4 linked regions of the Homo sapiens genome follow. The protein of the gene in region 2 purifies or fractionates together with the protein of the main gene of each other region. This does not show direct contact. Each region holds a gene or a part of one and is shown on either strand. Other genes may lie near its edges.

What was found.
Region 1: the proteins of FGF1 (region 2) and GPC1 purify together in Homo sapiens (affinity purification with mass spectrometry; 3 studies listed by BioGRID and IntAct, with this or other methods). This does not show direct contact.
Region 3: the proteins of FGF1 (region 2) and EGFLAM purify together in Homo sapiens (affinity purification with mass spectrometry; 3 studies listed by BioGRID and IntAct, with this or other methods). This does not show direct contact.
Region 4: the proteins of FGF1 (region 2) and TGFBR3 purify together in Homo sapiens (affinity purification with mass spectrometry; 3 studies listed by BioGRID and IntAct, with this or other methods). This does not show direct contact.

What each region holds. Positions count from the first base shown.
Region 1 is NC_000002.12:240,438,452-240,445,887, reverse strand, and holds part of GPC1 (glypican-1 precursor), read right to left. Parts: intron 1-7,436. UniProt on the Homo sapiens protein: Cell surface proteoglycan that bears heparan sulfate. Binds, via the heparan sulfate side chains, alpha-4 (V) collagen and participates in Schwann cell myelination.
Region 2 is NC_000005.10:142,683,089-142,691,308, reverse strand, and holds the start of FGF1 (fibroblast growth factor 1 isoform 1 precursor), read left to right. Parts: upstream 1-5,218; 5' UTR 5,219-5,352; intron 5,353-5,605; exon of another isoform or gene 5,606-5,810; intron 5,811-7,494; exon of another isoform or gene 7,495-7,613; intron 7,614-8,220. UniProt on the Homo sapiens protein: Plays an important role in the regulation of cell survival, cell division, angiogenesis, cell differentiation and cell migration. Functions as a potent mitogen in vitro. Acts as a ligand for FGFR1 and integrins.
Region 3 is NC_000005.10:38,253,607-38,261,612, forward strand, and holds the start of EGFLAM (pikachurin isoform 1 precursor), read left to right. Parts: upstream 1-4,952; 5' UTR 4,953-5,148; coding exon 5,149-5,245; intron 5,246-8,006. UniProt on the Homo sapiens protein: Involved in both the retinal photoreceptor ribbon synapse formation and physiological functions of visual perception.
Region 4 is NC_000001.11:91,679,733-91,687,168, reverse strand, and holds the end of TGFBR3 (transforming growth factor beta receptor type 3 isoform a precursor), read left to right. Parts: intron 1-3,311; coding exon 3,312-3,430; 3' UTR 3,431-6,826; downstream 6,827-7,436. UniProt on the Homo sapiens protein: Cell surface receptor that regulates diverse cellular processes including cell proliferation, differentiation, migration, and apoptosis.

The sequences.
Region 1 (7,436 bases), on a different chromosome or scaffold from region 2:
GAGCCGCAACGGGCCTAATACTGACTACAATTCAAAGTCACAGTGAGAGGACGCCGTTTTCCAAGCTGTCTGCTACGAACGTGGAGGGGCATAAACAGCGGCGACGTCTACTGGTGACCAAGCCCCAGGTCCCGGAACACCATCGTTCCGAGTAAGAAAAAATGCTAAATTCTGGTTAGAGGTTAGCAACGATGGAGATGTAATCTCTTTCTCAGCCAAGTTCATGAAGCCCATGAATTACATCCAGAACCTCATCCGTGCACCCACAGAAGGATGGATGCATCTAGAACAACCCTCCTGCATGCTGGTGTTTGGCCACCACAGTCTGCCCTTCCTCCCATCCCAGCACCTGGCGCTGAGTGGTGCCCCCTCCCCTGAGCTCCCTCTTCCCCTGGCGTGGTTCTGCCTATAGCTTCAGTTCAAGTATTTCTCTTGGGGGTGCTACTGGCGTTTGTGGAAGGGCACCTCCATCTTGCAGGATTACTGGGCTCCCTGGCCCCACCCACTAAACACCAGAGCACCCCCACTCCTCAATCACTGGGATGTCACAAGTGCCCAGGGCAACTGCTCCCGCTTGGGAGCCACCCTATCCCAGGGGACCTTCCCAGGTATCTGTCTGACCTGCAGCCACCCCTCACCCCAAATTGCCCACAGGATGAGGCCACGCACATAGAACAGGGAGGCACCTGTTCTAACACCTACCATCCTGGGTGTGAGGCCACAGGAGGGAGACTGAAGATGCTGAGCAGTGTTCTGTGTACAGCCCCCCGCCAGGCTCGGGGAGGGGGCATCGCGTTCAGGAACAGTGGGGCTGGATTACGTGAGAGACTTGTCCTTTTAAAATACCTCCTTGGGTCCAGTGTGTCCCAAGCTCCATGACAACTGGAGATGCATGTAAACGCCTGAGCCAACCCTGGTGGCAGGTGGCATCAGCTTTGTCCCCAGGGCCTGGTAGATGGTCACAGGTGGGTGGGATGCTCTCCCTGCAGTCTCCAGAGCCAAGGATGGGCCTCCTGGCCCCGGTTCTTGAGGAGACACTTGGACGTCACACATGGGTTACCACAGGGATGGGATCAGACAGCCACAGGGAGCCCCAGTCACCAAGGATGCGCCAGACACGGGTGGGCTGCGGGGTCCACAGTGGGCACTGAGGCTGCACCAGATGCAGGGACAGGCTGAGACGATCACCCATAGGCCACAGCTCTGTGACGCACTGGACAGCTGTCGTCGGTGTTTGGGGAAATCGTCTGAAGGTGCGCACAGGCCACAGACTTCCCTACAGGTCCCACTGCTGATGGCGCACCCAGGAAGCACCCCTGCCGGGGAGGCTAGGGATCCGGTCGCTGCTGCATGGGCCTAAGGCTTGGCTGTTCCCAGGAGGGAGACGTGCTGTTCTGGGCCTCAGAGCATCGGGGTCACTGCAGCCAGATCCATCACCCCAGGATGGACCAGCGGGTGAGGACGGGGCTCAGGATGGACAGTGCCGCAGGGTCCTGGGCGGCTGGATTTGGGAGTCCCCGGAAGCCCCAGCCAAGTTTCTCAGTAGAACCTGAACTTCTGTGGGGCGAGAGCAGAAGCCTAGCAGCGTTGTACTTCCTGGCCCGCCCAGCTCACCCTTGTCCCTCAGGAGGAGCCAGGACAGCAGGCGGGCATGTGGTGCCCACTGTGGGGCTGGCTCTGACCTCAGGAGACCCACCGGGCGTGGCGGCTGGGCTGGGCTGAGGCTGGCCGGGCCCTCCTGCGGTGTGTGTCCTCACATGGCCCCGACACGGAGCTGCAAAGAAGCCGGGCCGTGTTCACAGCCTCCCCTCCTGTGCGCTCCCGGTGCCCCTCAGGCCTCTGGGTGCCTGCACCTGCGGGGTAGTCTGTGGCCTTGGCCCAGCTCCCCATCCTCTGACCCAGCCTCACCCCTGCTAGCCAGGCCCAGAGCAGGAGTGAGTCACTCGGCAAGCAAGTGTGGGGCTTGGCCCCAGGCGGCGAGGCCTCTCAGCTCTGAGCCCTGGGAACCCCTCTCTGGGACTCAGCTTTCCCATCTGCAAACTAAGTGGTATTCAGCCCACCCGGTAGACAGCCCCTGGTGCTGCCGACTCTGGGAACTCCTGGGGCACCTCAAAGGTGGGAGAGGACCAGGGGAGGGAGGGCCTGGGGAAAGAGGGACCCTTCTCTCCCTGTCCACCGGCTGCGCCCCATCAAAGACCTTGAGAGCCCACCAGGAGGCCTAGTTCACAGATGCCGCTGGGCCTCACCTCCCACTGCCCCGTGCTGGGCTCAGGGTTTCTGCTTCCGAGTCGCCTGGCCTCAGGGATGATTTGCAGTGGCTCTGTGGCTGGCCCTCCTCCCCACCACAGCCCTGGGAGGTCTCCTCCTCCTGAAGGAGCAGGACAGGTGGAGCCCCTGGGTGGCTGCCCTGTCACCCTGCCAAGCCTGCAGGACCCAAGGGGCACTCAGCACAAGAGAGCAGCGGGCCTCCTCGGCCAGCCACCGCCTCAGGAGACAGCAGTGGTGCAGCCTCCTGGCCCCCAGGCCTCCCTCATCTCTACATCTCCAAACCCTCGCCCTGCAGTCCCACTGCCTCCCCGCCCAAAGTCCACCTGAAGGGCTCTGCCCCCTGACAAGTGGGAGACTGGGGCCTGTCCAAGGCACACTCACACCACTGAACCACGACTCTCCCAGCCTGGGCTCCCGCAACGCAACCTGGAGAAGGTTTTCAGGCCAGCCTGGCCACTGCCCCCCACCCCAGTTCTGTGACGGCACAGGCGGCGGCATCCTCAGCCACTGCTGTACCACTAGACCTGGAACATCACCTGAGTGGCCCGGCCCTGCCACCCGGACCTGAGGGAAAAGCGGAGGCCCACGGCAGGAGGGGCTGGCCAAGGACCCAGTAGCTGTGCAGGGCCTGACGCTGAGGCCTCCCAGGCTTGTGGGGACCAGGCTGTGCCCAGAGAGCGCCTCAGGTGGACGGGGGTGAGTGGCAGGCTGGGGCGTGGTCACTCCCTCACACTGTCACCAGGGTCTCGGGCACATCTGTGCTGAGCTCTAAGCCCATTACAGAAACACGGCCCAGTGCTCAGGAGGCCACAATCACAAAACACCCAGAGCCTCGGGGTCTTTGCCACCTGATGGGAAGATGTAGGTGTGCCGGGCTGGGCTAGCTCCCCACTACAGGCTAAACTGTACCCCCAAAACCCACATGGCTGAGGCCTAACCCCGATTCCTCAGGATGTGACTTTGGGTGTGGAGTCTGTGTGACACCTCTCGTTAAGAAGAGATGGTACCGGTGGGCCCTGACCCAATTAGAGTTGTGTCCTTGTGAAGAGGGGGAATTCGGAGACAGAAGCGCACACGGGGAGAGCGGCCTGTGGAGGCCAAGGTGGGATTTACCAGCCAAGGAACACCTGGAAGCTGGCAGTGTGGAGCAGACTTCCTCACGCCTCAGAAGGGGCCAGCCTGGTGGACGCACACTTGATCTCAGGCTTCCAGGCTCTAGAACCACGGACGACCCATGTCTGCAGCTGCAGCTGCTCAGCCTGTGGCACTGTTCCGACAGCCCTGGAAACACTTGTGCTCCCAACCCCGGCACCCAGCCCCACCCGGTACCGGGAGGGACTCGGGGCCTTCCCCACCCTGTGTGGAGCTCAGGCCTGCCCAGGCGGGGGCCCCGGCAACAGGGAGGGTACGTGTTGGCCGATGCCCGGGAAGTCAAGCTGTGGGGAAAGGCCGGAGGAGGCGGGTGCTGTGGGTGGGCACAGGGAGGACACCGTGGAGGGAGGGGACAGGTGTGCCAGAAAGGTGGGTCAGCAGGAGCTGGCGGGAGATGGAGCTGAGGCCACAGGCAGGAGAGGGGATGGTGTGAGGCTGGCCTGGCCCTCTCAGGGGCTCCTAAACCCACCCGGATTCCAGACTGCTACCGAGCCTGGGGCAGTGGGGTATGCCCCTCACACCTGTACTTCCCCGCCACCCACGGCGGGCCAAGGGCAGCCAAGGAGGCTGCAGCTCTGGGCCCTGCTCCTCAGCATAGCCCTCACCCAACACCTGGCTGCTGCGTGCTCCCGCCTGGGTGTGGGGCCTGGAGGTGGAGGGAGAACCGCCCGCTTCCCTGGCCCAAGCCTCAACACCCTACACTGCACCCCCCACCCCGTCAGGAGACTTCAAGCGGCTCAGGGCACCTGCCCAGGCCTGTTCCCAGACAAAGAAAAGCCACCACAGGCACGGCAGCGAGGAGCCCAGGCTCCGGGCAGGCGGCTCCTGTCTGGAGCCCCCACGTAAAGTGGGCAAGATCCCGGGCCCCACAGGGCTGTGCTGGCGACTGGCAAGATCCAGGCCGGCTCAGGGCTCTGGGCACGTCGACACTGGACAGGGCCAGGGCTGGGCAGAGGCCCCGCATGTAGGAGTGCCCACCCCAGCCTCCACCACGGGTCCAGTCTTGATCTGAAATAACTGAGCCAGGCCCTGTGAGGACGGTCTGGCTTAAGAAAAGGCGTCCAGCCTCTCACTGGCCCGGGCACGGCAGATGTGGGGCCCCAGGCCAGACCTGACCAGTGTGGCTTCGGGTGAGCCCCTCCCCTGGCTCGTCTCCTGTCTAGTGCCAGCCCATGGCTGACACCTGTGCCATGCACATGGATGCCATAGAACAGACATGGGCATGCTCAGACACCCACTAAGCTCTCCTCCGAGGTCTGATGTGCAGCCCTGCGGTTCGGCCACCAGGTAGGTATGCCCCCCGTCCTGCTGTAGGGAGGCGTCCTCGGTACCTGGGAAGGCGCGTTAACCACAGGCTCACACTGTCCCTAGAGATTGCTGGTGTGAAGGTACAAGCCCCAACAGACTGGACTGCCTTATCTCCCTGGCTTGGCACCTGTGGGCACCTGAATAGGGTACCTGTCCACTAATCCTGGGGCACTTGGCCCAGTGTGGGTGGCTGGTCTGCCCTGTTGGGGACATGCAGGGCTTCGTGGCACACGCTGGGAACAGCCCTCCTAGCAGTCCTGCCCCCCACAGGCAGTGGAGCCAGGCCGGAGGGTGAGGCCCAGCTGTGTGGAAGTACGACTCTCTGGGCGGCACGGCCAGGAGGAGCTGGGCAAGACCGGAGGCAGGGAGGCCAGGAGGAGCTGGGCAGGACCGGAGGCAGGGAGGCCAGGAGGAGCTGGGCAGGACCGGAGGCAGGGAGGCCAGGAGGAGCTGGGCAGGACCGGAGGCAGGGAGGCCAGGAGGAGCTGGGCAGGACCGGAGGCAGGGAGGCCAGGAGGAGCTGGGCAGGACCGGAGGCAGGGAGGCCAGGAGGAGCTGGGCAGGACCGGAGGCAGGGAGGCCAGGAGGAGCTGGGCAGGACCGGAGGCAGGGAGGCCAGGAGGAGTCCCGGTTAAACGTTCTAAATGAGCCTAAGAGATGGAGCCCAGGCCCAGGACAGGAGAGCGGGCTGGGAAAAGCACGAGCCTTCCAAGAAGTGCAGAGCCTGGGACAAGCAGCCTGGCCTGGCTTTACTGGGCAGTGGTCAATGCTGTAGCCAGATCTGGCCCTAAGAGGAGCGCTTCACCAGGCTTCGGTTTACTCATTTGTAAAACAGGTCTACAAAGACCCCTTCCGTCTGATGTGTTAACCAGACAGTCATGGGAAACGCTCCACAAGCCGGGTTTCCCCGTGTTCTAAGAGCACCCGGGTTCATGAGTGCTCTTAGGGTACCGGATGCCATTAACTGAGAGGGGTGTGTGTGGGCCTTTGCAGAGGGTGTCCGGGGAGAGGGGGGACACAGCCCGAGGCTGCCCACGAGGTGCACAGCCCCAGCACCTTCTCCCTCCTGGCCACCTTCACAGGAGGTCACGATTATTCCCTTTCTCTCCTGTGAAAAGGCCCGGGGACACCGGGGATGGGATGGGGGTGGGGGCATCTGTGCCTGAGGAGTGCTGTGGCCTGCCTGGCATGGGAGGCTTGGCGGTCCAGCAGGGACCCAGGCCATTGCATCACGCAGGTGGCCCTGTCGGATCAGGGCTCCCCTGGGCTCCGCTCGGTCCTCACGCTGGGGATGATGAGCTCCTCTCATGGAGGGAAGAGCAGCGACACAGCAAAGGCTGAGGACCACCTGGGAACCACGCTGAGCCACCTGGACAGGACAGGGCACAGGGAACTGTCTGGTCTGGTGAGGGGCTGTGTGCCAGGCAGCCTCCGAGAGGCCCGCTGAGCAGGACTGAGAAGCAGATGCTGGTGGGCTCTCCCGGGCCCAGCCGGAAACACCCTTTCAGGGATGTGGGAAGGAGAGGTCCAGGCCCTCTGAGGATGGTTCCCCAGAGTCTGTGTGCCAACCACCCAGGCGGTCAAAAGTGGCACAGAGAAGAAAAGATTCCTTCGGAGGGGCCCAACGAGTGGGTGCTTGGTACAGGCTCCAGGGCACGCTGGTGCCCGCTCCAGCTGGTAGGCGGGCTGCCACTCTGGGCACAGGAGCGGCTGGGCAGTTTCTGTGCCACCGACAGTCCCATGCCCCACTCTGACTTCTGCCCCCAAAACTAGACCTTAGGGCCCCTCCTCTGCCTCAGGCTGGGAGACCCTGAGAACAGGGGTGTCTGCTCCAAGGAGACCCTCCTCTACCCTCCATGTCCCGCTCCCCACCCAGCACAGCCAGGTATAAAGCCAGGAAGGCCTGGGGGTGTCCTCCGAGAAGCTATCCTGGGCCGGGAGCCAGCCGGGTTCTGTGGCTACAACAGGGAAACAGTTAGAGGTGGTCCCAGCGACCAGGGAGCTCAGGTGCCAAGGTGGGGCGCTGAGACCCCAGCAAAGGAGCAAACAGACACACATCACATCACATCAGACATCAGGAGGCCAGACAGGTGCTCTGGGAACACCTATGCCCAGACACAACCTTGCAAGCAAAAGCAGGAGGCCTGCTGGCACGCGGGCAGTGATTCAGCATGAGGGCTCCTGGCAGCGCAGGGGCACCCGGGGTGCCACTCGGCTCCGCCCTTGCCTTCTGTGCCGTGCCCTGGCATAAAGGGAGGGTGGCCGGGTGCCCTGCTGCAGTGCCACCGTCCAGCTGGTGGCACCCAGGCCTGCTTCCTTGCCCATAAAATGGGATGACCACTGCTGTCACTGCAGCCTGGCCTGGCTGTCCAGAGGACAAAGGAAGTCTCAAAAGGGAGCCCAATATGTCCCGACACTGCCCTCTTTCATGAGCTAAGTCTCCTGTCACCCACTGCCTTTTCTGGTCCCTGGGGCAGAGGCTGGGAAGGCCCGCCACACACCCAGGGCCAACTGCTCTCCTTCCCACGAGGAAGTATCAGATCTCTACCCCACCTGCTCCGGGCCAGCGAGGTGCCCAACCCCAGGGGGTTCGCATTCCCTCTGAGGAGGTCCCCCTGGAGAAGTCTGGATGCAGGAGAGAGGGGACTGAGAATGGTGCCTACTAGGCCACAGAGGGTCCAGGGCTCCTGGGAGGATCTGCCGCCCAG
Region 2 (8,220 bases):
CTGGGGTTACAGACGCCAGCCAACATGCCTGGCTAATTTTTGTAATTTTTAGTAGAGACGGGGTTTCACCATGTTGGCCAGGCTAGTCTCGAACTCCTAACCTCAGGTGATCCACCCGCGTCGGCCTCCCAAAGTGCTGGGATTATAGGCATGAGCCACCACGCCCAGCCTAAGTAAACATTTTATGAATACAATAATTTTGAGAAAGTAGTAAGTAGTATGAGGAAAAAGAAAGTGGGAGATGTAAAAAGACAGTGATAAGGGGCTGATTTAGAACGGGTGGTCAGGCTGCAGGTGGCCTGAGCTGAGACAAGAATAACAGGAAAGAGCCAGCCAGGCAAATAACCTAGAGGCAGAAAATAAATGCATAATTCTGGGCAGAGGGAATGGGAAGTACAAAGGCCCTGAGCTAGGACCAAGCCTGGCCCGTTATGAGGAGCAGGTGACTGGAGCACGGTGAGCAATGAGTATGTTGGGGGAGAACTTGCAGAGGCAGGTGGTGGTAGTGAGCTTGGCTTTTGTTCCTAGTGCAAGGGAAAGGCCCTGGACAGGTCTGAACAAATACGTACATGGTCTGATTTACCTTTTAGCAGGTTCCTTCTGAAATGAACTGTAGAGGGTTAGGGTAGAGCAGGGAGGCCAATTAGGAAGATACCCCAATACTCCAGGCAAGAAATTTGGTGCTTGGATGAACTAGACCAATGTGCAAACATCTATTATTAAGTGAAAAACAAACAATTACGCAGGACATTGTGCACAGTAATGTGTGTTTTTAGCATACACATATTCAGGGTACAAAGACAGTTTTCTTTCCTGAAAGGATCCATACATTCAAAGTGAATAGTGGTTATCTTTGGAGAAAAGAGGGTTAATGAGTGTCGTTTTATACCTCTTAGTGCAGTGTTATCATGTGCACAGAGTGTTCGTTTTAAGTAAAGGTAAAATTTTTTTTTATTTTTTATTTTTTCCCCAGACGGAGTCTCACTCTGTCACCCAGGCTGGAGCGCAGTGGCGCGATCTCGGCTCACTGCAAGCTCCGCCTCCCGGGTTCGCCGGGTTCACCGGGTTCACGCCATTCTCCTGCCTCAGCCTCCCGAGTAGCTGGGACTACAGGCGCCCGCCACCACGCCCGGCTAATTTTTTGTATTTTTAGTAGAGACGGGGTTTCACCGTGTTAGCCAGGATGGTCTCGATCTCCTGACCTCTTGATCCGCCCGCCTCAGCCTCCCAAAGTGCTGGGATTACAGGCGTGAGCCACCGTGCCCGGCCAAGGTAAAATATTTTAAAATTAAAAAACTAGGATTGAGGGGCCGGGCGCGGTGGCTCACGCCTGTAATCCCAGCACTTTGGGAGGCCGAGGTGGGCAGATCACGAGATCAGGAGATCGAGACCATTCTGGCTAACACGGTGAAACCCTGTCTCTACTGAACAAAATACAAAAAACTGGCCAGGCGTGGTAGCGGGCGCCTGTAGTCCCAGCTACTCCGGAGGCTGAGGCAGGAGAATGGCGTGAACTCGGGAGGCGGAGCTTCCATGAGCCGAGATCGCGCCACTCCACTCCAGCCTGGGCGACAGAGCGAGACTCTTGTCTCAGAAAAAAAAAAAAAAAAAAAACTAGGATCGAGGAAAACACAGTAGAATAGGCGACAGACAATCAATATTAGAGGAGAGGAAACCCAGCTCTCATGGGTAGGACCCTTCCCAAGCATCCTCCCCTGAAGTTGCTGAAGAATCAGGCTAACCAGCGGCGGGCAAGCGCATATGATTGGATTTCAGTGGGATCAGGGTGAGGCACCTTCCTTCTTGAGGGTCATTGGACTCAGCTTCTGTCCTGCAGTTCTGGTGATGTTTGTGGCTGGCTGGTCTCCTTGAGCAACGAATACAATTTCCCATGAATGTCTGCTGCATTTCCCATTGCCCTCTGTCATCGTGGCGCTTGCTTCACCATGAGACCAGGACACCCTTCATCTAACTGCCTCATTGGGCATAAACAGAGGGAAATGTGTTGCTGGAGGGAGAGAGTGGCATGCAGCATCCAATTTCTCCCGTCAGCTGATTAAGATTTGTTGTGCCTGAACACGGTCAAATGAGATTAGAAAGAAAATGCAATGTGTCTGGTGTGTGTTTCACATAACTGTATCATTTGTGTAAACAGGATGAATGAAGGGGAATTTTTAAGGCAAATATTGAATGTCATTCTCAAGAATCAAGGACAAGACACCAGGGCTTATGTTCTGCCTGGAGAGAAAAAAAATGTATATATTGGGGGCATTTTGAACCCTGTTGATTCAATAATGCTCTGCTTCTTTCATGCTGGTACAGTTAAAATGTGATAGTTATATGTCTGATTTTCAGAGACACTGAGCACAAAATAAGTAAAACCACAGAACCACCACATTCTACCTTTGTTGCCCTTCTAAAGCTCTTAGGAGAGGTGTAGAGCCACTTTCTGTAATAGCAGCTGCCTAAGTGCTCTGCATTGAGTCCATCTGTTAGGATGCGAAAGGAAAAATCTCACCTCTGGCAAGAGCCACAACATTTTAGATGTGGATGACTCCGGGGCAAGCCCACGTCTCTGTGGATAAACCTACTAGAATTTTTTTTGGTCCTCCAAACCTGTAATTTTCTTCCTTTCTCCAGGGACCCCTCTGCAGTACTAGCAGCCTCTCCTACAAGGTTTTATCAGGGCAGAAATGGCTTTTAAAGTGGTGTAAGAGCTTTGGAGGAAGACATGATTTCTGTTACATGTTCTGCATACGATCTAGCATATTGTGGATGCTTAATAAGCAGCTTCGACGGCTATTATTTCCACTGACTATTTCCAGGCACAGAGCTGGAGGGCTATTCTGAGACCAGACTTTTCGACTAGGTCATTGCAAAGTCCCTTCCTACTCTAAATAACAGTGGGGCTGAAAAGCATTCACATGATCATGTCTCCAGACTGGGAAAAATCTCAATATATGTTATTTAAAAGGTAAATCTAGATAGTAACAGAAGTTCAAATAAATGTAGAAATTGAAGGATATTATAATGAAATTTTAAAAAATTTCCACATTGGCGGGAATTATATTACAGTAAATACCTTAACTGAGGATTATTTCCCAGTATTTGGACAGTAATATTGCCAAACACCCAATATGCAGTAGATAAATTAGCATATGTCAGTAGCTAGGGATTATATTTGCCTAAAAGCTGTGTGTGTATGTGTGTGTGAGTGTGTGTGTTTAAACAGGGTTTCACAACTGGACATAATGGAGAAATAAAATAAAATAATGACTTGCATTTGCATTCCCTGCGTTCAAGGTGCTCGAACACACTTGGACACATTTGATTGTCATGATAATCCTGTGAGTTTGCAGGGAAGATATGAGTAGGAAAGTCTCATTAATTTCCACTAGGAGGGGGGGAATCTGGAGCCCTTGGGCTGAATTGCCCAACAATGGCCAACCACACAGTGCAGGCAGGTTAACACGGGGTTAACCTAAAGCAGGGAGACCTGGTTTTAGTCACAATGAGGACTTTAACTAAGGGTACCACCTGAGTGAGTCTCTGAGTCTGCATCTCTGTCCTTAGGATTTTTAGGGTATTTTCTAACTTTCAAGTCTATCATTTCACGTAGTTAAAAAGGGTTAACATGCATACTACATCTAGCATAATGATTCTTTAATACTTGGAAAACCATTGTCCAAAATATTTTCTTTAAGGATTCAGAAGGCCCTTTGGAAACTTGCAGATACTCAGGAAGATTATTATGTTTTAAAGCAAATTATCAGTATCCTTTGCAGGTGTAGAAGTGGTAGTTCATGAGGGTTCCAATTAATAGGGTCTCAAGAAATCAACATTTTCTGTATATTCAAGTCCCTTTTGGGAGCTGCTGCTTATCCGTGATTGGAGTTCTGTGATGATTGAGCCTCTAGCTCTTTAGTACAGGACACGAGCTCCTTCTCCAAGGCTCATCCCTTCAGAAGGCACATGGATGGCTTCCCCACACCCCCATGCTCTGTGGGGAGTGTGGGGAACAAACTGCAACTCCATCCTCTCTACACCTAAGCAACTACCCAGAGGAGGTAGAGACTGGAGAGCATATTTCTAGTTCTGACAGGTCGATCTGTACCTCTCTACCTGAATCATCAGGTGAGCAGGCTTGTGTACATACATGGGAGTGCATGCGTGCACACACACACACACACACACTCATGCCTTCTGGGCTCAAACGCCTGCATAAGCAGGAGCGACTCTTCAATTATTGGAAACTATTAATCATGTTTTCATTTGGTTTCTTCAAAGACAGCTCTTGATCCATATCCTTTCAGTCCACCTTATTCCCCACCTTCTAGCCAAAGAGTTATTTGTCCAGACAGCTCCCTCCCTTCCTTACCCTGTCCTGGCCAGAAGTCTAAAGAGGATGTCCATGGCCCATTGAAGAATTTCCCACCCCTGAAGTTGAGCTCACCTGAGGATTCACCTCATCCAACGGGGACAGGCTTGAACAGTGGAGAGGGAGGACAGAGCTGCCACCTCTGCAGCCCCTCGCCAGTCCCAACCTGGATGGCTTTTGCCTCGATTGACTTCGTAAAATGCCATTTGTAGGGCTTGGCTCTGGGGATGGCACAGACAGACACACACACGCACACATACACGTTGCCACACACAGACACCTACACCCCATGCAGGGATGCCAGATGACAGAACAGAAAAGGCCTCCCTTTCATCCAGCAGCCTTCTGACTCCAGAGGAGAGTCTCCGAGCCACGACCTGCTGTTTCCCTGGCAACTCAGGCCTCAAAATAAACAGGATTCTGCTCAGACGGGCCAGAAGTCCATTCGGCTCACACATTTGCCCCAAGACAAACCACGTTAAAATAACACCCAGGGTAGCTGCTGCCACCGTCTTCTGTCTCTACCTCCCTCCTGGCTGGCCAATGGCTCTGTGTTCCTGGGCCTGCTGCTGGCTGTCCAGAGTAGGGGTTGCTTAGAGCTGTGTGCATCCCTGCGGGTGGTGTGGGAGTGGGCGGTTGTCTAAAGGCAGGTCCCCTCTACTGATAAACAAGGACCGGAGATAGACCTAGAGGCTGACATTCTTGGCTCCCCCAGCCTACACCCCCCCCACCTCGATTTCCCACAGAGCCCTAGGGACGGGTAGCCAGCTCTGTGGCATGGTATCTGGAGGCAGGCCAGCAACCTGATGTGCATGCCACGGCCCGTCCCTCTCCCCACTCAGAGCTGCAGTAGCCTGGAGGTTCAGAGAGCCGGGCTACTCTGAGAAGAAGACACCAAGTGGATTCTGCTTCCCCTGGGACAGCACTGAGCGAGTGTGGAGAGAGGTACAGCCCTCGGCCTACAAGCTCTTTAGGTAAGAATCAGGGCATCTGATCTGGGAAACAGAGCAGGTTATAGCTGAGGTTGTGTGTGTGTGTGTGTGTGTGTGTGTGTGTTTTGTGTGTGTGTCCAAGTGCAAATGTAATGCTACTTGGAGAAGAAAGAAAATGTTTCAAGCAGATAGCACTGGAACCAGGACTCCTGCAAGTGAATCTCAAGAAGCTCACCTTTGGCTGGGTTTAAACCATGGTGCAGACTGCTCTGGGGGAAGGGCATGCTGATGTCACAGACATGTAAAAATAGTACTTCTAGTTTAGAGACTGCAAAAATATGAATGCACCATGCCGCCACATTATCTCCATTCCTCCAGTGCCCGCCTGACACTGGCCCTGAATCAGGGCTGGAGGGGGCAGGCATTTCTCATTTACTAAAGTGCTGGATGCAGCCCTTGAGGTTCGGCAGAAGCAGAAAGCTGCGGTGAGTCTGGCTGTGGTGAGTGTGGCTAGCATTATCGTGCTGTGTCACACTAGCTCTCTCTTGGGAAGCCTGGATATTCAGCTGCCTTGGAAAAGCTGTCCACATGGTGGGCAGCTTAGATTTTATTAACCTTTTGATATAGAAGTCAGGCTGAAGTTTAGGATTATCTGGGTGTGTCAGCTCAGGGTTTTGGTAGGGTGGTATTCCCATGGCCCCATGGTCACTCGGATTACTTCTTTCCTTCCTTTCTGATCTTGGAATATCACATCCTCGTTTCAGTACCCCTCCGATGGGCACTAGGAAAGAAGGAGTCAGAATGGACAGAGTCTCTGGCACATACACTATCCACACCCACATCACAATTACATGCCAAAGGTATGCAAGGCTGCTGCAGAGGAGCACTTCAGAAATGCAGCCCTCCAGATACTGAGATGGAAATTTCAGGCATTTAATCAAGTACGCACTTTTCAGAGACCCAAGGGAGGCCCAAGGGCTCACTCTGCCTCAGCAGAATTCAAACACTCCATTATTCTCTAGCTATGTTACATCCACCCACCACCCCACCACCCCCGCTTGCCTCCCTCCTTTCTGCACTGGTGACTGGCACTTTTCCTTTCATTCTCTACAGGGATGCGATTGTTTACGAGTTAGCTCCCCGACCCAGTGGGAGGACTTGAGCATCCCGGCTGAGGGCGAGCCAGGCTGCCCCTCCACCAGCTCTGTGTAACAGTGAGCCAGCAGCAGTGGCATCAGGGCTGAAAGGAGTGGGCCTCGCTTTGGGAAGTGATGTCTAGTGAAGGGTGGCCAGCAGTTTACTGGAGCTGTTTGTCAGTGTGGATGACTGAGGATTTTGGTGGAGACTCTGATTCACAGTCGCAAATTCCCTTTTCCTTTGTTTTCTTTGTGTTGGTCTTTGAGGGCTTCCGAGGAAAGTCCCCTCTTGAGATGTTGATCTGAAGGCAAGATCAACAATTTGCTGTTGGCAGAGGGACTCAGAGAGACTTTCTTCTGTTGCCCCTGCCTTTGTTAGTGTGAATAAATGGGTTTGCAAATGAAGTATGTAATCCAAAGCAAACTTAGTATGCAAAACTTTAAGAGAAAACACAATGAGTTTCTTTTAAATTCTCTCTCAAATCTGCTGTTTACATATGACTTGACTAGTTCTGCAAAGGATCAAGGAAGCCATATCTGGTTAAGTGGTTTGACTTTACAGGTGAGTAGCACCAGCCATGATGATAACATTCAGTGGAGATGGTGGGCGGACATCCATATGCCGTATCTACATTGAAGGGACATCTCATCTTGGGACAGTGCAGCCACTCACTTAGGTGACATGCATTCTGTGAACTACACATAAACTATTAGGATCTTGGGACTGCTGTTACAGGAAAGAGATCCAGACCCCAAGAGAGGGTTCTTGGATCTCAAGCAAGAAAGAAGTCAGGGCGAGTCCGCAGTGCAAAGCAAAAGCACTTTCTTTTTATTAAGAAAGTAAAGTGGTGAAAGCACAGCTGCTCCACTGACAGAGTAGGGTGTTCCCAAAAGTAAGAGGAGGAACACATCCATCCTAGGTACCATGCTCGTATATATAGGATTTTAAAAAGATCATGGGGAGATGTGCTCTGCTACAAGGGTTTGTGATAAAGGATAAAGGATTAATTTTCTTTTCCTTTTTTTTTTTTTTTTTTTTTTGAGACAGAGTTTCACTCTTGTTGCTCAGGCTGGAATGCAATGGCACAATCTCGGCTCACTGCAACCTCCGCCTCCCGGGTTCAAGCAATTCTCCTGCCTCAGCCTCCCAAGTAGCTGGGATTACAGGTGTGCGGCACCATGCCCGGCTAATTTTGTATTTTTATTAGAGACGGGGTTTCTCCATGTTGCTAAGGCTGGTCTCTAACTCCCAATGTCAGGTGATCCAACCGGCCTCCCAAAGTGCTAGGATTACAGGTGTGAGCCACTGCACCTGGCCTAATTTTCTTAATTACTATATTTTGCAAGAATCCATATTATCTTTAAAGCAAAATTAGGAATGCATTTGTTCTCAAAATATCGGGCTACCTGGAGACTCCCAAGTCTGAGTCTGTGTAGTAAACATTATCAATCTATTCCCTTAACCATAAATATCTGGAGTCTAGGAATGCCTAATTTTCTGGGAATGCAGCCCAGCAGGTCCCAGCCTCATTTTCCCAGCCCTCACTCAAGATGGAGTTGCTCTGGTTCGAACGCCTCTGACACTGTCAGCCTGTATGCTAGCTCCCAGGGGTTAGGTATTGTGCAGAGTGGACACACCCATTTCCACCTCATTAAATAAGCAGTGCATGGCTAATGCAGTATCCCTTGATTTAGGTTGCTGGAAAAATAATCTGAAGTTGTTTGTGCCACAGGCATACCATGCTTTAGGTAAATCTAACATCTATACATGTGG
Region 3 (8,006 bases), about 100 Mb from region 2:
ATGAAAAGGACAAACAACATCAAGTGTTGGTATGATTTTTGAATGACTAGAACTCTCATATACTTTGATGGGAGTGTATATGAATATAGCCACTTTGGAAAACTGTTTGACAATACCTTCCAAACCTAAACATATGCCTATCATATAACCTCATAATTCTGCTCACAGGTATACACAGCAGATACACATACATATGTCTGCCACAGACACATACAAGAATGATCACAGCAACATCTTCGGTTGTAGTTCCAAACTAGAAACAACCCAAATGTCTATCAGGAGTAAAATGGATAAACAAATTATGATACATTTCTATAATGGAATACTACACAGCAATGAACATGAATAACCACACAACTTGGATGAATTTTTTCAAACATAATGTTGAGTAAAAGAGGAATAAGTGATTACATTACTGCATGATTCCATCTATATAAAGTTCAAAACCAGGCCAAAATAATCTAGGTGCTAGAAATCAGGAAAATGGTTACCTATTTGGTTGTAGGGTAGGTTACAGTTAGTGGGAAGAATGAAAGGCTTTTGGGGTGCTGGTATTGTTTTATTTCTTGATCTGGGGGTTTATTACACGTTTGCTTTGTCAGTGCAGTCCATTGATTACATACTTAATTATAATCAAGTATAAGCAAGGAGGACATAATGCATAGCAGATGGCTATGCATTATACAGTATCTTATTATATATGTTATCATTTGTAATACAGGGTCTTTGTCACTCAACCCAATAGCACATTATTTGCACTCTTATTTAGGGCTTCCTTTGTTCTGCTTTATGGAACAATTGACAGTGCAACTGTCTTCGTCTCCCAACAAATTTGTAGTCTTCTTGAGTGCAAAAAATATTGTTGCATTTTCTCTAATATATTATTTCTGTTCTTAGCACAGAGACTTACACATAATGGGATTCAGTCTCAATGTTTGTTTTACATTGGTGTAGGGAGAGTGTTTACTTATTTTTACTGATCTACTTTTATTTGTGTGTTTTAATTAAAGGTAAATGGGAGGTTAGAATTCTCATCCCTCATCCTTCTTCAAAAATACACACTTCTAGAGAGGAAGCATGAAGAGGGCTTTGTGGGGGTGCTGGTCATATCCTATTCCTTGATCTGGGCAGTAGTTAATAAAGTTATACAAGTGTGCTCACTTTGCTATAATTCATCAATTGGTACACTTACTATTTGATACTTTTGTATGTTGCATCTTGATTAAAATGTAACATATAAATATATGTATATTTATATTTCTAGTTTGATAAGACACTACGTTGGTGAGAGTTCACGGAATTAGTTAGGCACATATACTGCTTATTGGGGAGTAAAATAGTACAACCTCCTTGGGAGGAAATGTAGCCAAATTATCAAAATTGAAAAGGCATTTACTGTTTGACCGAGCATGGTTAGTCTAGAAATGAACCCTACAGTCTACTATAACATGTGCAACTTATTACATATTCAGTGTCATTCATGCCTGCTGTTTATAATAATTGGAAACAACAGAAGAAAGAACAAATAAATTACATATCACATGTAGAATATTATTCAGCAGTTAGTAAGAAGGAGGCAGATCTGTATCTGCTGATTTGGAAGGATCATCAGGTTAAGAAGTACGTAGAAGATGCTCTTGGTTGCGTTAAATATATGTGTATATAATTAGCTTGTCCATTCATAGACCATCTCTAGAAGGATATCCAAGAAACTGGTGATGGTAGAAGGAAGAAAAGGAAACTTATTTTTCACTATACACTCTGCCTGATCTGCATTTCAAATTTTACATGTAGATATAACCAATTTAGAAAAATAAATCAAAAGATGATTCTTGGCTGCTGCCTCTTTGTCACTCTCATTTAGAGTCTTAATAAACATTCTATAATTGATAAGTTTGCCTTTACTTTCTTCTACCAGCCTCCAAATCTATTCCATGCAGCAAAGGTCAGATTCCTCTTCCATGATAATGAGCAAAGTAGGCAGGTCACTCTTCTGCTGGTGACCTTATTAATTGAGTTTAGACCTCCAGTGAATTTGAACAGATTTTTTTTTTTTTAATGAAACATTCAAAGCCTCTTGGCCCCTCTTTAGTTCCCCTCCTCTCAGAAAGCAGGAAGAGAGTGAAAGGCAAGTGTTCTATTTGTCTTTAGTCAGATTTACAAATGCCATAGTTGGTTTTCAAACTGGAAGGAGAGGGAATCTTCCAGTTCCCTTGGAGGATGCGATTTGAACTGCAAAGGAAGGGAATAAGTTTAATGTAACATGTGCTCTAGATTTGAAGCAGATTTTGTGAAATAAGGTCTTATCTCAATGGCCTGATGATCCAGAGTGTTTGCAGGCCCTCAGAGGTAAAAATACAACAGTATAATCTAATGTTGTTTTTCCCCAAGGAAAAAACAAGAGGGGTCTCTGAAGAAACCAAGCCTATTTCCCAAATCGCCTATGGTCATCTGCAAAAAAATGGAAGGGAGGCCCAGGGCCAGGGATGCCGAGGTGGTGTGGGCACATGAGGAGGACATTGGCAAGAAGGCTGCCCAGGCTTGCGAAATTTGCAGTGGACAATTTGCACAGGGTCTGTTAAAAGGCACATGCAGAGTAAAGGTAGCTTAGATTAGATGATGCTGTTTTATCAGCTATTAAAGAGAAAGCAAAACCTGGAATTTACTGATTGTTTCGTCCAGCCCATTCATTTTTACCAAGGCACACTATACGCAGAGCCTAGGATTAAACACCCACATCTCCCGATCCTCTCAGTCCACTGCTGTGTTTACTTTCCACATTGTTCTCTCAAAAGCCTGAAAGCTGGAATCAGACCCCTTGGATTCAAGCGCTGCATGGGAGCTGCATGACCTTGGGCAAGTTTCTTAACCTTCCCATGCTTCAGGTTCCTCACCTGTAAAAGGCGAGAATAGTAATGACAGTATCTTCCTGGTATGGTTGTTATTGGGATTAAAATGCACTTCAAAGAAGGTCTGGTACATAGGAGACCTTAAATAAATGGTAGCCATAATATCAACGATTATTATTACTTCCAGTTTCAGCATCACAGAGAATCATTTTTAAGTAGGAAAGCCTGCATGGGAGGCATCTGCATTGCAACACTCGCTTGGTTCTGGGTGCCACATTAAGTCCGAGATAAGAAATCACTTTCGCATAAAGAAAGGCCTCTAACAACTTCTCAGCTGGCGCTGGAGGAGCTCTCTCACACAGGTGGAGTTCAAAGGGAGGTGGCACGACCCGACACCAATGCTGAAAGCAGACTCCTGCGTGGAGTGGAGGCATGGCCTAGATGACCTTTAAAATGCTAAAAAGTCTATGATTTTGAGACCTTTGAGACTAGCAGCCTTGGGGGCAGTCACTTTGCTTAGCTTAGTGGCCGGCTTTATGGTCACCTTGGACGTGAAGAGCATAGTTCTGTCTGAACTTTGCTCCAGTTCTATGTAAGAGGACAAGCTCTGGTGTCACAGCTAAAACTTCCAAATACTCAAGTTGGAGGGGACTTTGAATTTATTTGTGAACAGACAATTGCACACTTGAAAATGCCAACACATAAGGGAACACACTCAGCTTTGCTAACTAACAAGATTGAGCTCATTACAAACTCTCCAGCCAGGGGATATTTCATTCTTAAAAGAGGAGTAGAAATCCTGTGTGTGTGTGTTTGGGGGGCTGGGGAGGGGAGAAGAATATATCAGTCAACATTGTTTCCTCCCGCGCTCCCAAACATAGGCTAACTGTGAAGAGCCAGGACGCCCACCGAGTCCTGGCAGCGTTGCAAGGTGGGGAGGGGGCGGGCGCGGTCCTGTCGCTAGTGACTGCAGATTTCCTCTGCGGGGCACTTCCTACGGCCTTTGATCTTTCCCCAGGAACTGCCGAGGGCCGCGTTTGCCTCTAAGTTTATTCCCTCTTGGTTTATTTATTGTATCTGCTTTCTCTTCTCGCTGGTTTGGAGGTCAGAACGCCAGTATGCAACGGGACTTGTGTCCCAGGCAGGGTCTCCCCTCTCCAGGCACTACCGCGAAATCTGGCAAAAGGTACATTTTACTGAGTCCTAGGGCAGCAAATTCAGCGGCGGAGAAAGAGTCTTTCTCCATTCAGGAGACAACCCAGGAAGCCCGATCCCGGGATCAGAGGCCAGGACCCCGCCCCGGCCCCCTGCCCCAGGCCCAGCTGGGCGCCGCCCAGGGGCTTTTCTCGGTCCGCCTGGGGGCTCGAGCTCGCGTCCCTCCCTAAGACGCCAGGCTTAACTTGGAGTTTCATCTCCTCCCCAGGAGGGTCTCAAGTTGCCTTCCTCTGCCGGGAAGGGCCCCCACTCCCCCGCTCCAGGCCCTAATCTCCACCCGGCGTCCCAGTCTGAGCGGCCTGGCCTCAGCTCTCCATCTGCGAGCCTTAAATCCCATTTATCTTCTTAGCGCCTCAGACCCGGACGGTCCCGCCTCTCTTCCTCTCACCCCCACCCCACTTGCAAATCACAGACCCCCGTCTACCCCTCGCATCCCCCAAGTGCGCTGGACCAACTACAGCAACCTTTGAGGTGTTAGAAAAAGTCGCCTAGAGGGGCGCGGCAGGAGGAGGGCCCAGGTGGGGTGGAGGGGGGGCGCCCCAAGATTTCAGGGTGAGGACCGCGGAGGGTCCTGGACCCGCAGTCGCCTAACTCCTGCCCTGCGTCTCCAGTGCTTGAAGTCGGTCCCTCCCAGGTCCCCAATCTAGGTCACCAGCGGGGAAGGGCTGCGCTGGGGGTCGCTAGAGAGGGTGAGGGGCGGGCTGTCTGCTTCCGAGGTGGGCGAGGAGTGAAGGTTTCAGGGCCTGTCCCTCTCACTTCCACTCGATTGTAATTTCATCCCCGGGCCGGTCGAGCCTCCCTCCCTCCCGCGGCCAGCCCTTCCCTCCCAGTCGGCCTCCTTCGTCGCCCCCGCCCCCGCGAAAAGCCCTGCAGCTTGCAGCCGGCTTCACTCGCGCACGCCGACCTCCCGGCTGCAGTCCTACCTCTTGGAACTACCCGTGTTTCCGGGCCCAGCCCTCGCAGCCCCCCACCTCCTCGCCCCGGCCCGGGGATCCGTTGGGGCCGCGTCCCCCACGCGCCCCCGGAGACGCCCTTTCCGTGTGCGCCCGGGACTTGGTGAAACTTTGCAGGCGCCGGCTGCGAAATGGATTTAATCCGAGGCGTCTTGCTCCGGCTCCTGCTCCTGGCTTCCAGCCTCGGACCCGGCGCGGTGTCGCTCCGAGCGGCCATCCGAAAACCAGGTAATGCGCTCCTCCGCCCAGAGCCACCACGCCCCGAGCGCCCCTGCTGGGCTCCGGGGCGAGGACACAGAGCGGGCAGCGCACCGCCTCCCTCTCCCCGACCAACGTCTGCTTAACTCGCTTCAGCTCTGCCAGGAGCTGAGAAAAGACGCAAACCTCGCCCTCCCCCGAGCCCGGGCGGCGCTAGGGATATTTATTTATTAAAAGAATGATCAATTTTCCAGACATAGTAGATAGAGGTGGTGGTCCCCGTGTTTGACCGCAGAGAGCTGACAGTTGGGACAGCGATCGTGCTGTCTCAATTACAGAGGATGGCAACCATGCAGAGGAGTCAAACCAGCCCCTCCTGCGTCTCCAAACATTTTACTCAATTCATATTGTCCAGAGCCCAGCCATTTCCTGTTAAGTGTCTGAAGGGTTGCCTGGAGCCCCCTCTGCCCATCTCGGGTCCTGCCCACGCGTTGTGCAGGGATGTGGACTCTGCTCTTAGCATCCTCTTCCACTCTGGGGCCATTTGTTCAGAAGGAAGCACCCAGTGGGTTAATTTTACCGTGTTTTGAACTCCTGTCTTTGCTTTGGCATTTAAACAAAGAAATGTACGTTGTAACCTGTTATAAGGGACTGGGAATTGGGGGAGAACTTGAAACCATAATAACGTGTGTTTCCTCTAGCTGCATATAGGTAAAAAGTCTTCGTTTATTTTGGTCTACTTTGATTTGGCCTATGCTGTGAGATTATTCAAAGTAGAACATTCTGAACAATGAAGTTCTAAACATTGTTTCCCAAATAACGATTTTTATTACTTTTTGCTGGGACCATATTTAGAATTCTGAAAAATCTGTTTTGTCTTAACTTACTTTGTAAGGGAGGTTGTCTTATGGGATTAATTATATCTTATGAACAATGGAAAACAATATTACTTTTATTTGAATGCAGTCTGCAAAACCTCACAGAAAGTGCAGTTTGTCTTCACAAACGTTTCTGTAAGAAAGAGGCAAAGCTAGGAAAATTTATCAGAGGGCAGAGAAAATCGTCTTAGCGGGATCCCATGTGAATGCTTAAATATTTTCGCATTGAAACTCTCTATCTGGAAATATGACTTGTTGCATTTCGGCTCTGGAAGCGTCCTCAGTCTTTGCACTGTGTCTCTTATTACCAGCACTTGTTACCTGCCTTGAAATCTAAGGTCATTATCATAATCTACACCATATTTAAATTATGAGCCACTCCATTTATGAGCTCTTCAATTCATTTTGGAGATAATAGCTTCAGTCCAAGGTAATATCACATTAAATTGTTTCTCTTCCTGCACGCACACATACATATACCTTCAAGGATTTCAGTGAAGGGCTTCTTTCTAACTTTCCTCCTTAAGATAACCACATCACGATCAATTGCATTTTGCAGATTTATTCACATGAAATCATCTATTAATTGTCACAATTTTTAAACAAAGCATAGTTATATCTATAGTTTTAAAGCATGAACAGTGTATGCAATGCTTTTTAAAGGATATATTTTAATCCATTTAAGGGGAATTTTTAAAAAGCATTTTATAAAAACCTGTTGTATAAAACTGCTCATGTGGGTCATCATATTTTCCTTCTTATTTTTTGGAGTTCTTCTCCTAAAAAGATTTTCTACCTGGTTCATTCAGGGTCTCATTCTGATATTCATGCCAGGAATATGCCATGCTGGCCTCTTTGGTTTTATTTGAAGCATAGATAGGGTTTTGATAGTGGAAACACCACCTCTTAAATACTTTGGCATATTAATTACATCAAATTTGAGATAGAAGTGTTTAGACTAGGTTCAACCTAGAAGAGTTTTATTTTTATTACTTTATAATTTTATCCAGACACTAGCTTTCAGGTTGGAAAGCTTCTCAGATTAAAATGACAGCTACTTCATAACTTCAGGGGAAATTTCCCTCCTGGGCTCATTTACATCCCTTGGAAAGACTAGTTTTTGATCCGGAAAATTGGTCCAGATTAAAAAACTGAATGTGCCCTGCTTGGCTCTGATGTGAGCAGCAACTAGCTAATTTATAATCTTCCCCAGACACTAGCAAATCCTGCTAGTATCCATATGGGAGTTTCTTTGTACCTTGTTTCCTCAACAGAAATTGGTACATAGACAGTACTTTGAAGGTATCGTGGCCACGGTGCAGGCATACTGGAGCGGTTCTGTCTTATTTGGATGACCCTCCCTATCTCCTCATACTCCTAAATCTACTTTTGATAAGTATAGCATTGTTGGAGAAGTCTTGGATTCAAAATCAACCTGGAAATTCCCCATCCGCACCTACCTCTGGTGAGAAAAAACTGAGTAGCAGCTTCAAGTCTGAGTCTAGTTTGGGTTCAACACAAGCAACCTTTCTCTTCACCCCAAGATAGCTCATCTTTTGACATTGAACATTAATAAAGAAACCTCTGCATTTGCCAAGACTTACAAGAAATGACAGTTTTCAAATTAAGTGAAATTAAATCATAATAACTAACACTAAGTGCTTGCTACACTGTTCTAAGAACTGGATGCACAGTGATTTATTTAATCAACCCAATAGCCCTGGGAGATGGGGACTATTATTATCACTGTTTTACTGAAGGAGAAATTGTGGCTTAGAGAGGTTAAATATCTCATCCAAGGTCACACAACTAGTAAGCGGTGGAATGGAAATTTAAACTCTGATATTCAGGACCAGAAACTGAGCTCAGAACACTGTGTTTGCAGAGGTGTGTAGCATGTCTTGTAGGGTGTC
Region 4 (7,436 bases), on a different chromosome or scaffold from region 2:
TTCTTGAGGCATCTCTGGCAGTATCTAGGCCCAGCCATAGGCTAACTGTGAGATGGGTGGAATTAATCCTTAGTGTCCTTATCCTCAGTGTACTCTCCTCCTCCAGAGTATGTCAGGCACCAAATTCCTCTCTCCCCTACTCACTCTCCCTCCTCTCAAATCTCTGTTCCCTCAATGTGGTTTGATATTTTAGGAGGAAAGCAGGAAGACTGAGTACATTTCCTCTGCTGGCCAAGTCTGATATTTATTTACAAGCAAGGCGCCCTCCTTGAATTTCTTAGATGTGTTAATTGGGCCTAGTCTGCTTAGCCACGAGGTCCTCCCTGCCCATCTCCTTTAGGAGCAGCCTTGTTATACTTGTCACCCAAGGGATGTTTTAGAGAAAGTTGGTGCTCCACGAAATCAGAGACCACTGCAGTGGAGAGCAGACAGCCAAAGACCCATCTCAGAAAACCCAGGGGTCTCTGTTGGCCCATTAAGTAGAAGCATCTGTACATTCAACTTTCTTCCTCATGGTGAATTTTTCTGTAGCATCACTTCCATTTGACAGTGAAAAAACTTAATCTGTCAAAAGGTAAGAGTTATTTTTAAAACATGGTTATATTGAGAAACCTTGCATCTTACATGTGAAAATAGCCACAGAACTGGAAAGGATGGTCTGAAGAGGGGACTTTCAATATTTCCCAGCAGATTCTCAGACAGAGACTCACCTTGGCCCATTATTGGATCAAAGTCAATATAATATTAGGTTAACTTGACTTATCCAGCTGGTGAGATGCATCCTGCAGTCTTGAGTGCGGAGGCTTCTTTGTTTTGTTTGGGGTTTTGTTTTGAAGTGTTTTGCATTACCAGAACAAGAGTTCCCAAAACTCGGGAAGTTGAAAGGTCTCTTTAATGGGCACGGATGAAAATAAACTGACATGGCAACAAATTATATTTGGCAAATAGACATCGGAAAGCAGATATTCAGGCTTCCTGGGCAGGGCATAGTCCTGGCACTTTTCCTGAATGTGAATAATCAAGCACAGGGCAGATCCTGGAGGAGCACACTTGCTCCCTATTGCTTGATGAAGCAAGGCCTTCTCTTTTACCTGCTGTTGGGCTGAGCAAACAAAGCCCAGGTGAGCCAAAAAAGAAAAAGATGGAGTTGGCCTCCTGCTTTTCAGATGTATCCTTATTAAAATAGGAAAAAATATTTTTAAAATGTGGTTCATGCATAGCCACATTAGTCCTTCTGATTGATTATGTGAGGATCCAGCTGGGTATGGACCAACATGTGGTTTGTAAGGGAGTCAAATTCTTAAAGTATATCTAGAGTTGTTTGGGTCTCTGGAGGTTGTTTTTGTTTTGACCTCAGAATAGTTAAGAGATTTGATTCCCTTCTAGAAATAAAGCTCCTACTCTGGGGAAAGTGAATTTTTGGCAGAAAGTTATTGCCATGGAGGCTAATTTCCCCAGCCTTAATTATACACACACATGAAGAGTAGAGGGCAGTGCTGGGGAGGGTCCAAAACATAGGTTTCCAAAAAAGTCAAAAGCAGTGTTTCAGCCGGGCGTGGTGGCTCACGCCTGTAATCCCAGCACTATGGAAGGCCAAGGTGGGCCGATCACGAGGTCAGGAGATCGATACCATCCTGGCTAACACAGTGAAATCGTGTCTCTACTAAAAATACAAAAAATTAGCCAGGCATGGTGGCACATGCCTGTAGTCCCAGGTACTCGGGAGGCTGAGACAGGAGAATTGCTTGAACCCGGGGGGTGGAGGTTGCAGTGAGCCAAGATCATGCCACTGCAGTCCATCCTAGGGGACAGAGCGAGACTCCGTCTCACAAAAAAAAAAAAAAAAAAAAAAAGGCAGTGCTTCTCCGCTTCTCAGGAATATTGACCCCAGTCCCCTATCCATCCCGCCAATCCCAGAAGAAAAGATAATTAGAGGAAGTACAACAAGGGCCAAACTTACAACAAGCACATAAATACTTTGAGGTTGATGCAAAAGTGTGTATAGCTGTGTGGTTCATGAAAGGGGTGACAGGAAAAGCTGTAACCAGACCCAGGGACATGAGCCAGTTCTACATTTTGCAGAACTGCTTTTTTCACAGAGGCTTTTGAGGGGCCCCAGAAAGAGAATGGAAGTAATGGGGCCAAGTTCCTGCACTGGAGGGCAGGGCCTTTCCTCGAGTGTTTTGTTTTAATGAAGCAGCTGGAAGGGTTGCTTATCTCCGGCTGATAGATGTGTATTTCAGCATGACAGGAAAGAGGAGGCTCATTCATAAACAGGCCTGGCCCTCTGGGGTTTCCCACATTGAAGGAGGGGATGCTGCTTACAAGAAGTTTATGAAGTTTATGCTCTGACTTTTCAAAGTAAATGCAGTGTTTTTTATTGGAGAGCCCTGATCGCTTTTCCCTACCTAGAGCCATTTTTTGAGGGTTGCACTGAGGCCGGTTTTGCCGAAGAGAAGACTAACTCTAGGGCCTTTTGCACTGTTAAATGCAAACCATGTGTGTGACTTGAGGTTTCCTTCCTCTCCAAAGCACTGCACATTTGGCACGATGAATGGCTTTAGCTAAAATGCAGTGGGGTGTGTAATGAAAAGTGGGATGCTTAAAGTGTTAGGAGATACTCACACTGCACCCCACAGGGAACCTCAGTGGGGAAGAGAGGCCATTCGCTGGCAACTGCAGTCCCCATGTGCAAACAGCTAAACCCCTTCCCCAAAAGGTTTTTCCAATAGCAGCTATCCCCCACCCCGGTTTCTCAGGTAATTTATCTGTTTGGCACACAAGGCTCTCTCTACTGTAGCTAGGACAAAGTCTATATTTCACTCCTGTTTTTAACAAGTGCATTCAGAACAAGGCTCCCAAACTTCCAGGGTTCTCTTAACTACAATTGAAAGGTCACACCCTCCAAATCCTACAGTGTCTTTATGAGAGAAGATGGACAGTGTTTCCTGAATACAGGTGCTGGTCAGTTGCCAGCTCACACAGACCAAGTGGTGGTGATTTCATCAAAGGTTGTGGACCCTGAAATCCAGGGACTTTGTCATCAACTCTCAGGGGTCTTAGCCACTAGAGCTGCCTGTCAGTCAGCTGTCTTCTTTTTCCCATTCATGATGCTTTAAAAATAAAACAACAAATAGCAAAACCTTATTTTAGAAGGTATTCCAGCCATCTAGGACCTAGTCTAGTTGCTTCTGCCCTGGTTGAGAAAAATATCAGTTAAAATGGCAAATGCGGAATAAATGATCTTTTCAGGAATGCACATACATAATATGCGTCTTTCTCTGACTCTGCCTTTTCTTTATTAACTGCAGGGGAGACAGCAGGAAGGCAGCAAGTCCCCACCTCCCCGCCAGCCTCGGAAAACAGCAGTGCTGCCCACAGCATCGGCAGCACGCAGAGCACGCCTTGCTCCAGCAGCAGCACGGCCTAGCCCAACCCAGCCCAACCCGGCCCAACCCAGCCCAGCCCAGCTCAGCTCAGCTACTGCCAAGGGCAGGACCAATGGCTGAGCCTCGTGTCCAGACTCAGAGGGCTGGATTTTGGTTCCCTTGTAAAGACAGAGTGAATTTCAGTATAAAGATCACCCGTTGTATTCACCCCACACCCAGGGCTAGTATAAACATGACCCTGGGCTTCTGTACCACACTAGAATTCATGTGAGAAAGCTAAAATGGTGGTCTTCTCCACCAGCCCCTCACAGGCTTGGGGGTTTTCAATGTGAAACACATGCCAGTTTTTAAAATGCTGCTTTGTCCAGGTGAGAACATCCATAATTTGGGGCCCTGAGTTTTACCCAGACTCAAGGAGTTGGTAAAGGGTTAATAGCCAGATAGTAGAACCAGTGAGGAGATGCGGCCAAAGATTCTTTATATCTGAACCAAGATGTAAAACAAGAAATGCTTTGAGGCTTTCTAAGCGATCCTCCTGTCTAATTTGCACCTTTGTCTGGATGCACACTTCTGACCTTGCTGCCACAACCTGTGGGGTCTGATGTGTCCCTTGATGGGTGCTGCCCTCAGGGACTGCACCCTGACAAGTGTTAAGGCAACATTCCTTTCTTGTGCCCTGGGCCAAAACCAATGCTGATGACCTTATCAGCTTCCTGTTTCTTCCCATACTTGCATACACCACTGCAAAATGTCTTAATGCAAATTTTGTATTTCTTACAGGCCTACAGAAATTGAAAATGACCAAAATCAGGAACCACAGATTTGTGCCCATTCCTAATATTTTGTTCTGCAAATTAATGTATAATTTGAGGTGAAATTCAGTTATAAAGTCAAGGACGAATTTGCACAGTGATATATTTCTATGTGTATGCAAGTACAAGTATATAATATGTCACCTGGCACATTCATTTTCTCAGTTGAAGAAGAGAAAATTTGAAAATGTCCTTATGCTTTTAGAGTTGCAACTTAAGTATATTTGGTAGGGTGAGTGTTTCCACTCAAAATATGTCAACTTAAAAAAAAATAGGCCCTTTCATAAAAACCAAACTGTAGCAAGATGCAAATGCATGGCAAATCCTGTCGGTCTCCAGTTGGTTATCTGAATAGTGTCACCAATTCCACCAAGACAGTGCTGAGATTGGAAAAGGGCACTCATTTGGATTGCCTTACTTCTCTTGCCTTAAATATATCCCATATATTTAATATGTCAAAAAGGGCTTGAGGTGAATTTCATTAAATGGAATAATATGATGCCACTTTGCAGCTAAAATAAGCTCAGTGATACCTCCTTGTTAAAAAAAAAAAAAAAAAAAAAGAATGCCAGGGGGGAATTATCATGCTAAATTATTTTACTGCTGAAGATAGCTTCATTGCAAATTATTCTTTTTCCAGAATTTCCCCCAAACAACTTAGAATTCCATAAGTAGAACAAGATAGATTCTACCCCCAAAATATTCATAAGCAAATCCCACTGCCCTTAAAATAAGGAAGTTATGCCTGGTTGTCTGTGAATGGAACCTCAGTAGGTAATCCTGATGAAGCTTAAAACCTTAGGGCAGTGTCTACATGGGAAACAAGTATGTGGAAATTGACAATCATTTTTACCAAATCGTTGAGTAATAATATGACTTACCTGATAGATATACACATTCAATAAGGAACATTTTTTTTTTTCAATAAGGAACATTTTAACTAAAACATTACTTTAGGGCTGAGATTTCCAGGCTATCTACATTGATCTACTGAAAAATTTCTAGATTTCCATATACAAACGAAGAAGACATGAGTTTAGAGAATTTTTTTCCTTTAATTTTTTTTTAACAGAAGGGTATCAGAGTGGAGGACCTAGATTACGCTACCTGTGTTTGAAAATATTGCGCTTTGCCTAACCTTCGGTGGAATGTATTGTTTCAGCATATTCTATGTATAAAAAAGTTTAAAGATGTCTTCAAAGAAGACTAGAGTCTTTAAGTCACTTATAGCTATATTTTACTACAAAATTTGTGTATAAAGATATATTTAAGTGTTTTAGATAAATTTAAGTTACTCCATATGAAATGTTTAATTTCAGCTACTGTGAATTCTTTCGATCAGTCCTTTGCTTTTTTAAAAAATCTTTTCCATCGTGTTAAAAAGAAAATTAGCTATTAGGAGATATTAAAAGATTGATGTCTTAGAAGGACAGGGTTAAAACCTTCTGTAATATATTTAAATATATATTTTTAAGAGAGATGCTACATTGCCAATGATTTTATAAATAATTTAAAATTAATTTACAAATTTATAGATGCAAACCAAAAGATCTTTTTAAAAGAGAGAGAGAGGAAAAAAATCACCTTTTATTTGTTTGGGTCTCATTGTCAGAATTATTATTCAGATCAAGAAATCTGTGTCGATAAAACCTAATCTCATATTGGAGAGTGAATGTCGTTAAGTATTTCTGAAATGTTTCTAAAAAATGAACATGAAAAAAATAAGGTATTTTCTCCCTAGCTTCTCATTACAGTATTTCTAATTGCTTCACACTTTACAGTTTTAATACAAAGTACAAGCTCTACTTTTATAACGTGTACTACAAGTTTCTTTAAAAGTATTGTTGTATTTCAGCTGAACTCTTGTATCTGCAGTCTTTTGTTATTTCTGCAGGCTACACCCTTAATTTGCAGAGGCCATTTTGTTGTTTGTTTGATGCTGAAGCTGTTGTTAAAATGCCCCAAACTCCAAGGCAGATTGTCTGTATAATACGCTATAGCTTTTCACCATGTGGTGTTTACCAGCTGTTACTCTGTATTTTAAAAAGCCAGAGATTTCTTCTGTCTAAACTGTTTCTATAGCATTTTCTAAACAAAAAAAATGGTTTTTTTCTTTGCCTTGTAATAAGATTGTAAATCCATTTCCTGCTTGTGTTCTTAGTGGGCATGATTGTGAGTGTGTGTGGGGTGCTCACACGCGTGCCAGTCTTTTTGTACTGTAACTACCTCATGGTTTGAATGATGATTGTACTGCTGGTTGTGTTAACAGAGCACATTTTGTTGGGTGAGTCCTATGTGATTTTTTTCATGTTTGTTTTATCTGGGGGTTGTTCATGAAACTGACAGATGTTTTTCTAAAAAGGACTATTATCAGTTTCCAAATACAATACTTCTCTCTTCTGGTTTTTCCTGAATGAGCCTGATTTTGTTGCTGGTTTTCATCATCTATGAGGGTAAAACGAGTACCCTTAAAATCCCTGTGGCCAGTTTGAACACCCCTGTTGTATTCTTTTCTCTGTTCAGTGTGTCAGCTATTTTGTGAAGATGCTTAGATGTATAGTTTTGATAACCACAGTTTTAAATCTTTTATCTGTGCATAATAAAAAGATATATATCAGTTATTAATATGTGTCTTGTTATCATTAAATTCTACCCTAAGGCTCATGTAACTTTTTTCACTGTGACTTTCTCCTGAATGGATCGTCTGCTCCGTGTTGATGAGGAAGTGGGAGGAGAAAGGCTAAGAGGTCCAGAGCAGAGGGAAGGGCGGATGGACTAGAAGAAGAGTGCAGCAGGAGCTGTCGCTCTTCTCAGAAAAACATGGCAGGAGACTTGGAAGTGGGTGTCTCACCCTGGAAACCATTCCTGGGCCTTCTGTCAATCTCCCAGAGTCAAAGAAAGAAACATAATATACATTTAAGGTCTACTATTTTCAGCCCCTTCAAATACCCCATTGCTGCTTCCAGCATTCCGTATCTCCATATGGTACCACCGTCTTCCAGTTGTCCAAGCCAGAAACCTGGGAATCTAACTACAGCCTCTTTGGCTCCCCTCTTCCCAAATCAATAAGTCCGAGTGTTATTCTACCTCTAAAATGTCTCTTTCTTCAAACCACTGACTTATTCCTACTCTGACTGTTGTTACACACTGCTCAAGAGCCATTGTCTCTTGAGTCACTGCAGCAGCCTCCTAACTGGTATGCCGACTTTCCATTTTGCTCCCTTCAATTCTTTCT